Linked DNA regions of Homo sapiens. The protein of the gene in region 2 interacts with the protein of the main gene of each other region in a biochemical or structural test. Each region holds a gene or a part of one and is shown on either strand. Other genes may lie near its edges. The genes, in order: FRS2, NTRK3 and PTPN1.

Evidence for each region.
Region 1: the proteins of NTRK3 (region 2) and FRS2 form a complex in vitro, tested with the Homo sapiens proteins (one study listed by BioGRID).
Region 3: the proteins of NTRK3 (region 2) and PTPN1 form a complex in vitro, tested with the Homo sapiens proteins (one study listed by BioGRID and IntAct).

What each region holds. Positions count from the first base shown.
Region 1 is NC_000012.12:69,473,378-69,477,125, reverse strand, and holds part of FRS2 (fibroblast growth factor receptor substrate 2), read right to left. Parts: exon of another isoform or gene 2,918-3,748; intron 1-2,917. UniProt on the Homo sapiens protein: Adapter protein that links activated FGR and NGF receptors to downstream signaling pathways.
Region 2 is NC_000015.10:88,250,132-88,253,879, forward strand, and holds part of NTRK3 (NT-3 growth factor receptor isoform a precursor), read right to left. Parts: intron 3,348-3,748; exon of another isoform or gene 2,599-3,347; intron 2,484-2,598; exon of another isoform or gene 2,392-2,483; intron 1-2,391. UniProt on the Homo sapiens protein: Receptor tyrosine kinase involved in nervous system and probably heart development.
Region 3 is NC_000020.11:50,576,344-50,580,091, forward strand, and holds part of PTPN1 (tyrosine-protein phosphatase non-receptor type 1), read left to right. Parts: intron 1-2,076; coding exon 2,077-2,286; intron 2,287-2,824; coding exon 2,825-2,986; intron 2,987-3,359; coding exon 3,360-3,583; intron 3,584-3,748. UniProt on the Homo sapiens protein: Tyrosine-protein phosphatase which acts as a regulator of endoplasmic reticulum unfolded protein response. Mediates dephosphorylation of EIF2AK3/PERK; inactivating the protein kinase activity of EIF2AK3/PERK.

The DNA.
Region 1 (3,748 bases), on a different chromosome or scaffold from region 2:
TTCATCCACATTTCTGCCATTGGGAGTACTTTAAGAGAAAAATTTAAGCACTGTTAAAATAAATGAATTAAACATTTTTTATTTACCAGCAACAATGATACACAACATAACTCTATAAACCCATATCATTTTAATATCTAAAGCAGCAAACCCACAGTTTTCTTTAAAATTAACAGAGGGTCCAAGCTATTTCTACTTAACCTGAACATTTTGCCTTGGACATTCTAATAGAATTTAAATATTTCTATAGCATTCCCAACTTTTAAAATTACGCAACCAAAAACACTCAAAAGAAACAAATGTTAAGCCTTAATTTAACAGTCACCTAGGCTAGGTTTGCACCTTAAGTTCCCCACCCCCACACCCCCCCCCGTCCCTCCCCCACAGCCGCCTGCCCACCCAAGTGAACCAGGGAGTCAATAAGCTCCTCATCTAGACAACTGATGCAATTTCAATAAGCACTTATGTTCATAATTGGTTTGTGTCCCCAGGAGGACTTCTGTGACTCCACTTACATAACCCATTACGCACAGTGCTGCACTATTCTTTCTCTAGAAAGCATTTTGAATACTGATATTTGTACAAGGTTTACTTGCTGTATTAATAAAAAGGCTTTTCTTGCTCTATCTTTCCTGCAGAAGAAGTGAAATGGAAAGCCAATTTCTGCTGCTTCACTATGTCAAAGGCGAGTTATTTATCTTGTTGGCTAATCAACAGAGTAATAACTTAAAGCAGCACCCCCAGGCAGCGCCCACAGTTCAACAGTTTTCTCCAGAGGCTCTGGTTGAGAAACACAGTCTTAAACAAGTAATTTAGAGCTACTTGTGTGAACTCAACTGAAAACAGTCTGAACTGCTCCTTGAAATATGTTATAAGTATTGACTGTGAATCTTGACAAAATTAAATTCAATGGTGGCGAGAATCACAATACGTCCTCTGTAGGCTAACACAAGGGCAGAATGTACCCCAAACCTTCTTTAATATGCATAAATATGTGGATGAATAGTCTCCTCCAATCCCTCAGATTCTGTTTAAGCCAAGATTTTCGGATTTCACAGAACCATAATCTTTAAAAAGGGGCACGAGGAAGGAGAGGGTGACCAGCATAGGGCTGCCAACTTTTATTCTGCCAAGGACATTTAAAAAACAAAAACAAAAACTACCGATTACCCATCACCACTATTTCATAAAAGAACTAAGCGCCCATCGAAAATGGCAAAAGATAATTTTAGAAAAACATATCAATAGATTTAGCTTTAAAGAAGCCAACTACATTCTCCTTTCACTCAAAGGAAAACTCTGTCATGAACTGACACTACTCCACAGTCCAGCACTTCGGGAGCCACAAGCTTAAGTGGCTAGCTCCCACTGAGAAAAGGAAAGTGATGATACGTAATGCCCAAACCAAATATTAACCTATTCAATAATGAGGAAATGTAAGCTTAGAGAAGTTTAGGGACTCTCCCAAGGTTGAATACCAAGGATTTTGACACGGGTCTATCTAATTCTAGAGTCAGAGGTCCCAGCCATTATCCTAAGTTTCCTCTAATATTCTTCCAGTGGTATAACAATCCACCCTCATCTAGTCACCTTTGTGACCAATGACAACCAAGGAATTTCCAAGACAGCTGGAGGGAGTGAGGGGTGTACTCCCTGGCCATCATTTAGACTGAAGCTAAATGGAACTCCTGACCTTTGCCTCATTAATACCAGGCTTACTGAAACTAAGCCAAACAGCCCAGACAAAGCACACACAAAACCCCCTGCCTCCAACAACACTGACACAGGACTCTTTCGACATTCCCAAGTGCCTGTGATATAGTGGAAAACATATTCCTGAAAAACAAAAGGAATGTATTAATTCTCAAGAAGGAAATAAACACTTCCATGGTAACTCAGTCTAAAAATAATAAACTTGCCCTCAAAAAGTTACAACTCTAAGCCTCATTCTGCAAACTATTATAATCTTTTACACATTAATACTCAAGTTCCCCCTATTTAAATACCTAAACAGAAAACCACACAAAATTCTATAAATTTACAGTTCTTAAACAGTTTCCAAAATAAAATATGTAACTTTCATATGTGTTATCATATAATGGATAAAAGTATCTTATTCTATCCCTCTAATATAATCCAAACATTATAAGCCAAAACTAATCATGTTAATCAAAAGAACTTATAAAATAGAGTTGGAAGAAAAATATGTAATCAAATGCCATTTTCTATAAAAAGCAATATTAACAGCCTTAATGAGATGTAAATATTATCTTTGAATATTCAGAGGTTCTTGATTTTGAAACCAAAATCGATGTCATACACATAAATAAGTGAAATACTGTATCAGAGATTTGCTTCCAACTCCTCACATACCACTTGCCAAACAAATGTCCAAAAGAAACAAGCTAACATAGCTTTTAAGTAACCAAATCTGACACTCTGGATGAAATGAGTCTGAAGTAGTTTGTCCTCCCTGAAACAGGGTAAAGATAGCATAGTATTCTTGCTACCCAGGGCAAGAAAACTGTATTTCCCAATTGGATTTTTAATGATCAGATTCTTTCTACTCCGTGTGAACCTACAGTGTGAAGAAGCAGTGGACATACTATCAAATTCTTTACCCACTGCATAAAATAAATCACTTAGCATATTTCCTTCTGTTTTAAACAGATGCCATTTAAAACAGAAGTTTTTTTTTTCTTTCCCCTCTACATTCTCCCTTGGCACTTTCATCTTCTTACACAGATTCAACCAGTACACCTATTTGTATTATTCACTAAACCCATGTTTAATATATGCCTAGTCCTGACCTCTCCCCTTAACCACAAATCCACATTTCCAAAAGCCTTTGGACATTTCCAGCGTTTGGCAAGTATACAAAAAAGTCAACAAATCCAAAACTGATCTCATTACGTACCTCCTTGCCCGTATTTCTAGTAAGAGTACCACCGTCAACATCTCCGACACTTAAAAAGTGTAATCTTCAGCTGGGCGCAGTGGCTCACACCTGTAATCCCAGCACTTTGGGAGGCTGAGGCAGGCGGATCACGAGGTCAAGAGATCGAGACCATCCTGGTCAACATGGTGAAACCCCGTCTCTACTAAAAATACAAAAGTTAGCTGGGCGTGGTGGTGAGCACCTGTAGTCCCAGCTATTCGGGAAGATGAAGCAGGACAATCACTTGAACCCAGGAGGCGGAGGTTGCAGTGAGCCAAGATCACGCCACCGCACTCCAGCCTGGCAACAAAGCTAGACTCTGTCTCAAAAACAAAAGTGTAATCTTCACCTTCCATCTCCTCCAAACCTGCTCCAAAAACCCCTCCTCCTCGCCACCCACCTACGACATTGAGGTCCTGCAGAGCCTTCACTCTAATTCCATTACCACTGCCCTTGCCCAGTATTTATACTACATTGAAAGTCAGCTTTCCACATCAAATCATTCTGCACACTACTCTATTAGACCTTGGTAACTTCTCATTACCTCCCAAACGTCGAACTTTTTTTCCCCAAATGTCAAACTTCTAAAAGCAGCACTTAAACATGCTCCACAATCCTGCCCCCACTTAAAATTCAAACCTCATCTCTAATTCCCAAAAATGAACAGTATATTCCAGGTAATCTGGTCCACTAACTTTTCTCCAAGTACACAATGAACTTTCCCACCTCCACACTTCTGCTCACATCATTCTCTTTATTTGAAAGGCCTTCTTCACCCACCTACTCCCAATCCATAAATCTTTGTCTTAG
Region 2 (3,748 bases):
ACATTTCTGTCTTCCTCTCTCAGGCGTAGTCCTAATGTCTGGCTGAAAGGGCCACGCCCAAGAAAGAACAGAGCCAAGGGGACCCACAAGCTGGTAAGAGAAGCCCCAGAAGAACCACAGACTCCTGAGAGCCTCTGGACTTTTCCATTTGTGAGCTATGACAACATGACCACCTGGGACACTAGATTTGTTCTTTATTTTGTTTTCTTGATCTGTAAAATGGGACTGTTAAGCTCTGCTTTTATATGCCAAGCAACTGTCACAAAAATAAACTCAACAATTGTAAACTAAAAATAATGATATGACTGATGGGGGCATTCGTGGAGATGAAGAATTTGCTACACAAGGATAAGAAGGTAGGATCCCAGTAGGCACTAGACCATCGTTTCATAAGAGCTGGCCTGGCCCCTGCGAGGGGGCTTTTGGGCCTTGGGAACTCTGATCCGGAACTGAGATCCTCCACCCCACCCAGCTTATTCCCTCCTCACATTAACCATACCCCCCTATTAATCAACCGTTCCTTGGCCCAGCACCAAGAGAGAGCCAGGGGCTTCAGGACCACCTCTTCTGTCACCACCCTGTCTCCTTCTCAAGTGCCAACCCTCCCAATCACAAGAGCAGTGGGTACCAAGCTGTATTGATCATGCATGATTTAGCAATCAAAAAGTTTATTTTATAAACCCCAAACACTCATATTTATTACTTTATATGTTTATATATCTATTATCTATACATTAAATATGAAATATCCTCTTTTCTAGGCAAAAATAATTTGCAATAGAAGTTCCAGTGTTTTCTTCTCACACCCAGTGGAGAGCTGTGCTCCAGCAATGGGCTGAAAGCTTTGCAAAAGAACATCTTTTCCTGGCCCTGAGCCCAGGGTGCAGATGGGGAGTCACGAAGCTGGGTGTCCAGGCCCTAATGAGAGGCTGCAGGCCCCAGCACATTCTTGTTAAATATGCCATTTGGTCTGGGCAGTTGACTCTAAATAGTGTCATGTGTCACAAATGGTGTCAAATTCTGGGTGGCCTGAGTTTGCTAGAGGTGGGAAGGGAAGGAAGAGGAGAATAACCACTGTCCCAAGGTCAGTGAGGGAGTGCACCTCCTCCTGGCACCATCACAAGGATCACTGCCATCCCCAGGAGATGCCCTTAAAAGTGGCGTGGCCGAGCCTCCTGGGGGAAGTTCTCTGGGCCCTGAGATGACATATGTCCAAGTTGGAAGAAACACTCTGCCCTGCGGCCTCAATTCATAGTTGAATTTACAGGCTCTGAAAGTCTAGAGTGCCCTGATGGAGCTCACAGGGAGTTAGGGGCAGAGCCAAGGTGGGATTCACATGATCCATCCCTTTCTCTGCCACCAGCCAACTGGAGGCCCCGAGGGGAGGCTGGAGACCATGCCTATGACTTCTGTGCAAGCCACCCATGGGAGCACATGGGATGGGGACCCAGGCCACAGTGGAAATGCCGTGATATTGGCAAGGGCCATACCAAAGGAGGGCCTCAGGCTACCCACACCCACCCAAGAGCCAGCTGAGTTGGGGCCCTGGTCCTTCTACAGAGTTGGACAGAAGCAGCAGCTGGCAGGGACTGGCAAGGCAAGGACAGGCCCTCCCTTTCTCACAGCAGCACCTCCTGTTCAGCCAGGCAGGAGGGTAGTAGGAGCCTTCTAGGACCCTAAGGAACCTTCCAGGTTGCAGGCTTAGCCTTCCTGGGGCCAGTAGATGAGGACTTTCAAAGCAGTGGCCAGGTTGGGCTGGTTTTTGCCCAAAGCTGTCATGGCCTCAGGTCCCATGGAGGTGCAGAGCAGATGCCCTTGGCCCCAGGGTGTATGACAGAAGCTTGACCTGCTGGGCTTCCTGGGGCAGGGGGTCTTGGCTCTGGAGCCACCAATAGCCTTTCCTTGGTGGAAAACCCCAGGGCCTCAGGAGACCAAGGTCTCCAGGTTTGATCCTGGAAGTACCTTTCTCTGGGGCTGTAACTACTCCTGCTTCCAAATCTCATGTCAACAGCCCCTCACATTTCTGCCCACCTCTCTCAGACCTAGTCCTAATCCTGGGGTTCTGAGCACCAAACTGTGCCTACCGAGAGTGAGCCCCATGATGCCTTTGGGGCCTGGCTCATACCCTGCTGGGTCATTGTCAAGGCTGGGTCTCCCCTTGATCCTTAGAAAGAATGAGACTCAGGAGCCAACATGACGGCCAAAGCCCCGAATGATCCTTCAGCCAGCCAGAAGAGGGCCTTCAGGGAGGGCCATGGAAATGAAGGGACCAGAGAGCTGCCAAATGCCAGGGACCCTGTGGCGGCTCAGAGTGAGACCCAGCTGGCGACTCAGAGTCCCAGCTAAGAGCCCGTGGTCTTTGCAAGCCGAGGTAGCCAGCCCCAAGCATACCTGGTCCAGCCATGCCATCCTCTCCCACTTCATCTTCTTTCTAACAGCTAAAGACCATACCACTCCAACCCAGCCCCAGGTAGGCCTGGCCTAGCAAAGCGGCCCAGACAGTCCACCATGGCCACCACCCTCCTGCCTTTGTGACGTCACAGCCTGGTTGGGTGTGGCTGCGCATGGACCCTTCCAGGCTCCATGAGGTTCCTGTGTATCAACAGCTGCAAAGGCAAAGGGATTGGCCTCCTGGGCAGAAAGGGGCCAAAAGGGAGGGCCCTTTGGAGGAGCGTGGCTCTGGTGAGGGGTGGAGGTGAGACCCACACTTATGCTCTGATGCCTTGCAACTGATTTCCTCCAGATACAAACAGGGCAGCTGAATGGGGAGATGGCCTCCCCCATCAGAGGCAGTTCCCAGCCAGCTTCCTTGGATGGCCACACAGGAATCACTCCACACACCATCCCTGAGAAGCAGAACCACAGGGAAACCTCTTGTCCCTCTGGAAACTCAGTTACAATCAGTTCAGCACTTGAAGGAAGGATCTCGAAACATTACAGCCCGAAGAACAAGAGGGTGAAACTGTGGAGGCCTCAGCATCTTCTACCCAGAGTGTGCCCAAGCTATACCCTGGGGCAGCCACCAGCATCAAGAGCTTCAGGCCAGTAGGGAGCTAGGGGACCTCTTGGTCCCATTTCCTTGATAACATCAGAAATCTGAAGAACAACTCTCCAGCAAGGCACGGGCTTCAACTGAAGCCCTCTTCCCAAGTCATACTAAAACAAGAACTGACCCCAGCTGCGGGTGCTTCTCTCTGCCCGCACATCCCTCTTCCAGCCTGCTCCATATGCAGCCCCACACAGTGGGGGTTCCTGTTGGGATTGTGTGTCTGGGGCAAGTGACCTTACCACCCCAAGCCTCCATTTCCTCAGAAGTCAAACAGGGATGGGGATGCTGACTTTCCGGGGTAAGCGTGACTCTCCGCCCTCTCTCCAGCCCCCTGGCTCTGGAGTGGAAATCTGGGCTCTTCTCGAGCTCAGTCAATACCAGCCATAGATATAACAGGGCACTGGGGAAAAGATGGGGCAAGGAGAGGTCATTTGACCCATGACCTCTGACCCTCCCCCACCTGCCACTGGCACAGCTCCTGTGGGAATCCATTTCCCTTGTTCTTTGGTGTTGGGTGGATTTAGAGAAAGGAGTCCTGATGGCCTCTCAGAATCCAAGTCCTGAAACAAGAATGGGGACACACACAGAGGGGCTCCAGATCCACTCCCTGCTCACTATCCTCCCAGACGCCCTCCTGAGGCCCTCCAGTACCAAAGAGGGCAAGAGGCCACCCCAGTCCCCTCCCATCACAGACCTTTC
Region 3 (3,748 bases), on a different chromosome or scaffold from region 2:
GAATACAGCCAGCTCAGAGGTTTTGATGTTAGGATCTGTTTGCTCCAACAGACTTTGTTTTTAAAAGGCTTTTCTCAGCCATAGCTGTCTGTTCTAGCACAAGGCTGGAATGAGTTCCTTGTGAAAGAGGTGAGCAGGTGTGAGGGAGGGTGTCAGTGGGCGGTAACCCACACCTTCAAGGATTAAAGGAAAACTTGCATTTGGCATGCTTGCTTCTTATTCAATTTTAAAATACATTTTAACGGCCGGGCACGGTGGCTAACACCTGTAATCCCAGCACTTTGAGGGGCTGAGGTGGGTGGTTCACGAGGCCAGGGGTTCAAGACCAGCCTGGCCAAGATGGTGAAACCCCATCTCTACTAAAAATACAAAAAAAAAAAAAATTAGCCGGGCGTGGTGGCGGGCACCTGTAATCCCAGCTACTCGGGAGGCTGAGGCAGAGAATTGCTTGAACCCAGGAGGCGGAGGTTGCATTGAGCCGAGATCATGCCACTGCATTCCAGCCTGGGCGGCAGAGCAAGACTCTGTCTCAAAATAATAATAATAATTTTTTAAAAATACATTTTAAGTCCTTTTCTTCCCCACCTGCCTCCACCCACCAAATAGAAGAGGTATTTCTTCTTCTTTAATGTCATTAAGGTTATATGGATACCATTTTCTAGAGAGGAAAGAATGATGGAATTGCCTAGTGTGAGTCTAGCAATTATCCTAACATACACAAATTTCTCCTTGTTCTGTGCCAAGATACTGTATTTAATATTTAATGAACATTAAATATTATTTACTAGTGTATTTAATGGCTGAGGCAGGGTTAAATATGTATTATTTTCATCCCAGCAGAGTTGGGGGAGGTCCTAGTAACTATGCCATGAGCTCTGTGAGGGTGAGGTGGTGTCTTTGCCCCCGCCTCCCTGGCACAGTGACTGGCACATGATTGGCATAGTGTGGACATTCGTCAAGTGAAGGAAGGCATCATGAGCAGATCTCTGGCCTGAATCCTTCTGCCATCAGCTGCTCGCCAGGTGGCCCTGGCACTGGGCCACAGGGAAACTCTCCAGGCTGGTATGGTTCCTGTCTGTGGCTGTCTTCCCGGGCCCATGTTAGGAGACTTTCACTTCCAGAGCCCTTTCCCTCTCAGGGCCTTGCTTACCAAGTGACTGGTTCCCATTTACTAGGAGCTCTTAGGTCATTGAAGATGTTGCGTACTCCCCCCAGTGAGGGCTGCCTTTTGATCACAGCCGCCAGAAGCCTCAAGGAAGGAGCAGAGCTGGAAACAGACGCCAGGCCATTGCTTCTGTTCCTCTGGGGCAGACCCAGCCACGGAAGAGACATTCTGGGACAAGGGCTGGGGTCCACCTTTCAAACGTGTCTGCAGCAGGCTCTCAGCATGGACTCTCTGCCTCCAAACATCCACCTCCTCATCGGAAAATGGATGGGAGTGCCTGCCTGGAGCAGCTGGTGGGAGAGCGCAGCGCCAGCACGTAGGACACACTCGGTTCATGGGCTGATGCCGTTCGCATTGACTGCCTCTTCAGCTGGGTGTTGAGCCACACCTTGGAGTCACCAGTCTTTGGAGACCAAGTCTGCTACTTTTTTCTCTAAAGTGACAATCCTCTGAAACCTCCAGATCATCTTGAAGCCCCCGTCTGAAAGTTGCCCAGAGCCAGTGCCTCACCTGCTGTTCCTTGTTCACTTTTTCACGGGAGGCCTTGCAGGGCTTTATGACAAGATTTTATGGGTGGCTGCCCAGCATCATTGTGACTCGTGAGACAGAGAGAAACCAGTTGTAACCATGTAGACAGTGGAAGTGATAGGGAGAAAAGAGGTGAGGGGACTCTTCAATCCGAAGGGAAATGAAGTCTAAGCAGGCGCACCCTGCAGGTTCAGTGTCAAGCCCAGGGCCTGGCCCCAGGGTGTGGTATTTGTTGACTGGGTGTGTGGACCCTGGGAGAAAGTCTGAGAATGAATGTTCCTCTTAGAGGTAGAGAGTGGAAGGTGACTCTGTGTGTACTTGGAATTAGTGATTTCTGTACAGATGATTCTTTTAGAATCATCATGAGTATTTTTCTCTTTCAGACCCAAGAAACTCGAGAGATCTTACATTTCCACTATACCACATGGCCTGACTTTGGAGTCCCTGAATCACCAGCCTCATTCTTGAACTTTCTTTTCAAAGTCCGAGAGTCAGGGTCACTCAGCCCGGAGCACGGGCCCGTTGTGGTGCACTGCAGTGCAGGCATCGGCAGGTCTGGAACCTTCTGTCTGGCTGATACCTGCCTCTTGCTGGTAAGGAGGCCCTCGCGGGTGCCCTGGGGAGCTCCTCTACCTGCTCTGCTGTGATGTTTTTTCCTAAGTAGAAACTGAAGCGCTCCTCTTCCAAAATACAGAGACTCACTGTGTTAGTCTGTTTTTGCGTTACTAATAAAGGCGTACCTGAGACTCGGTAATTTGTAAAGAAAAGAGGTTTAACTGGCTCCCGGTTCTGCAGGCTGTACAAGCATGGCACCAGCATCTGCTCGGCTCCTGGGGAGGCCTCAGGGAGCTTCCAGTCATGGTGGAAGGTGAAGGGGAGCAGGAGCAAGAGATGGGGGAGGTCCCAGACTCTTAACCAGCTCTCTTGTGAATGCATTGCCTCAGGGAGGGCACCAAGCCTTTCATGAGGGACCTGTCCCCCTGACCCAGACACCTCCCACCCAGCCCCACCTCCAACACTAGGGATCACATTTCAGCATGAGATTGGGAGGGGACAGACATCTAACGGTGTTATTAACGTTGCCCTTGAGAATTGGACCTGGCTGACTTATATCTCCTCTCTGGCTTTCAGATGGACAAGAGGAAAGACCCTTCTTCCGTTGATATCAAGAAAGTGCTGTTAGAAATGAGGAAGTTTCGGATGGGGCTGATCCAGACAGCCGACCAGCTGCGCTTCTCCTACCTGGCTGTGATCGAAGGTGCCAAATTCATCATGGGGGACTCTTCCGTGCAGGTCAGCATTGCCTTTGTTTGAATCCAGGTGTGACCATTTTAACTTTTTTGTCTTTGAAGGAGGCTGTCAGTTGTAAAAGTTCAAACACCGTCTGGTGTCAGGGGAAATAGCTACCCTTCATGTTTAAAATAGCTAGAAAGTTGTCAAAATGTTCACCATGTTGCACTTTGTGCCTTTGAAGTGCTCACATAGAGAGCATTGATAGGAAGACGAGACTTTATTTTCAAAAGATTTCATCTTCCAAGTACATGGCTGCAGCCCTGAGAGGCCGAGAGCCCCTCGCCAAGCCGTCACCTCTGCTCATGCAAAGGGATTTCCTGACAAACCAGCCGAAGTGAACACTAATAGGACTTCCTCTTGCTGCTCTTTCAAGGATCAGTGGAAGGAGCTTTCCCACGAGGACCTGGAGCCCCCACCCGAGCATATCCCCCCACCTCCCCGGCCACCCAAACGAATCCTGGAGCCACACAATGGGAAATGCAGGGAGTTCTTCCCAAATCACCAGTGGGTGAAGGAAGAGACCCAGGAGGATAAAGACTGCCCCATCAAGGAAGAAAAAGGAAGCCCCTTAAATGCCGCACCCTACGGCATCGAAAGGTAATATGATTGGGTCCCAGCTTGTTGGGGTGAGGGGAAATGACTTTCTGTTCTAGAAACACACGCTGGTACTGAAACCCTGTGGATGCAGCCTCCTGTTGGCAAGCAGCGCTTCCGCATCCTTGGGGAACAGGGCGCGTGGACCACAGCCACTCCACTCCTGGC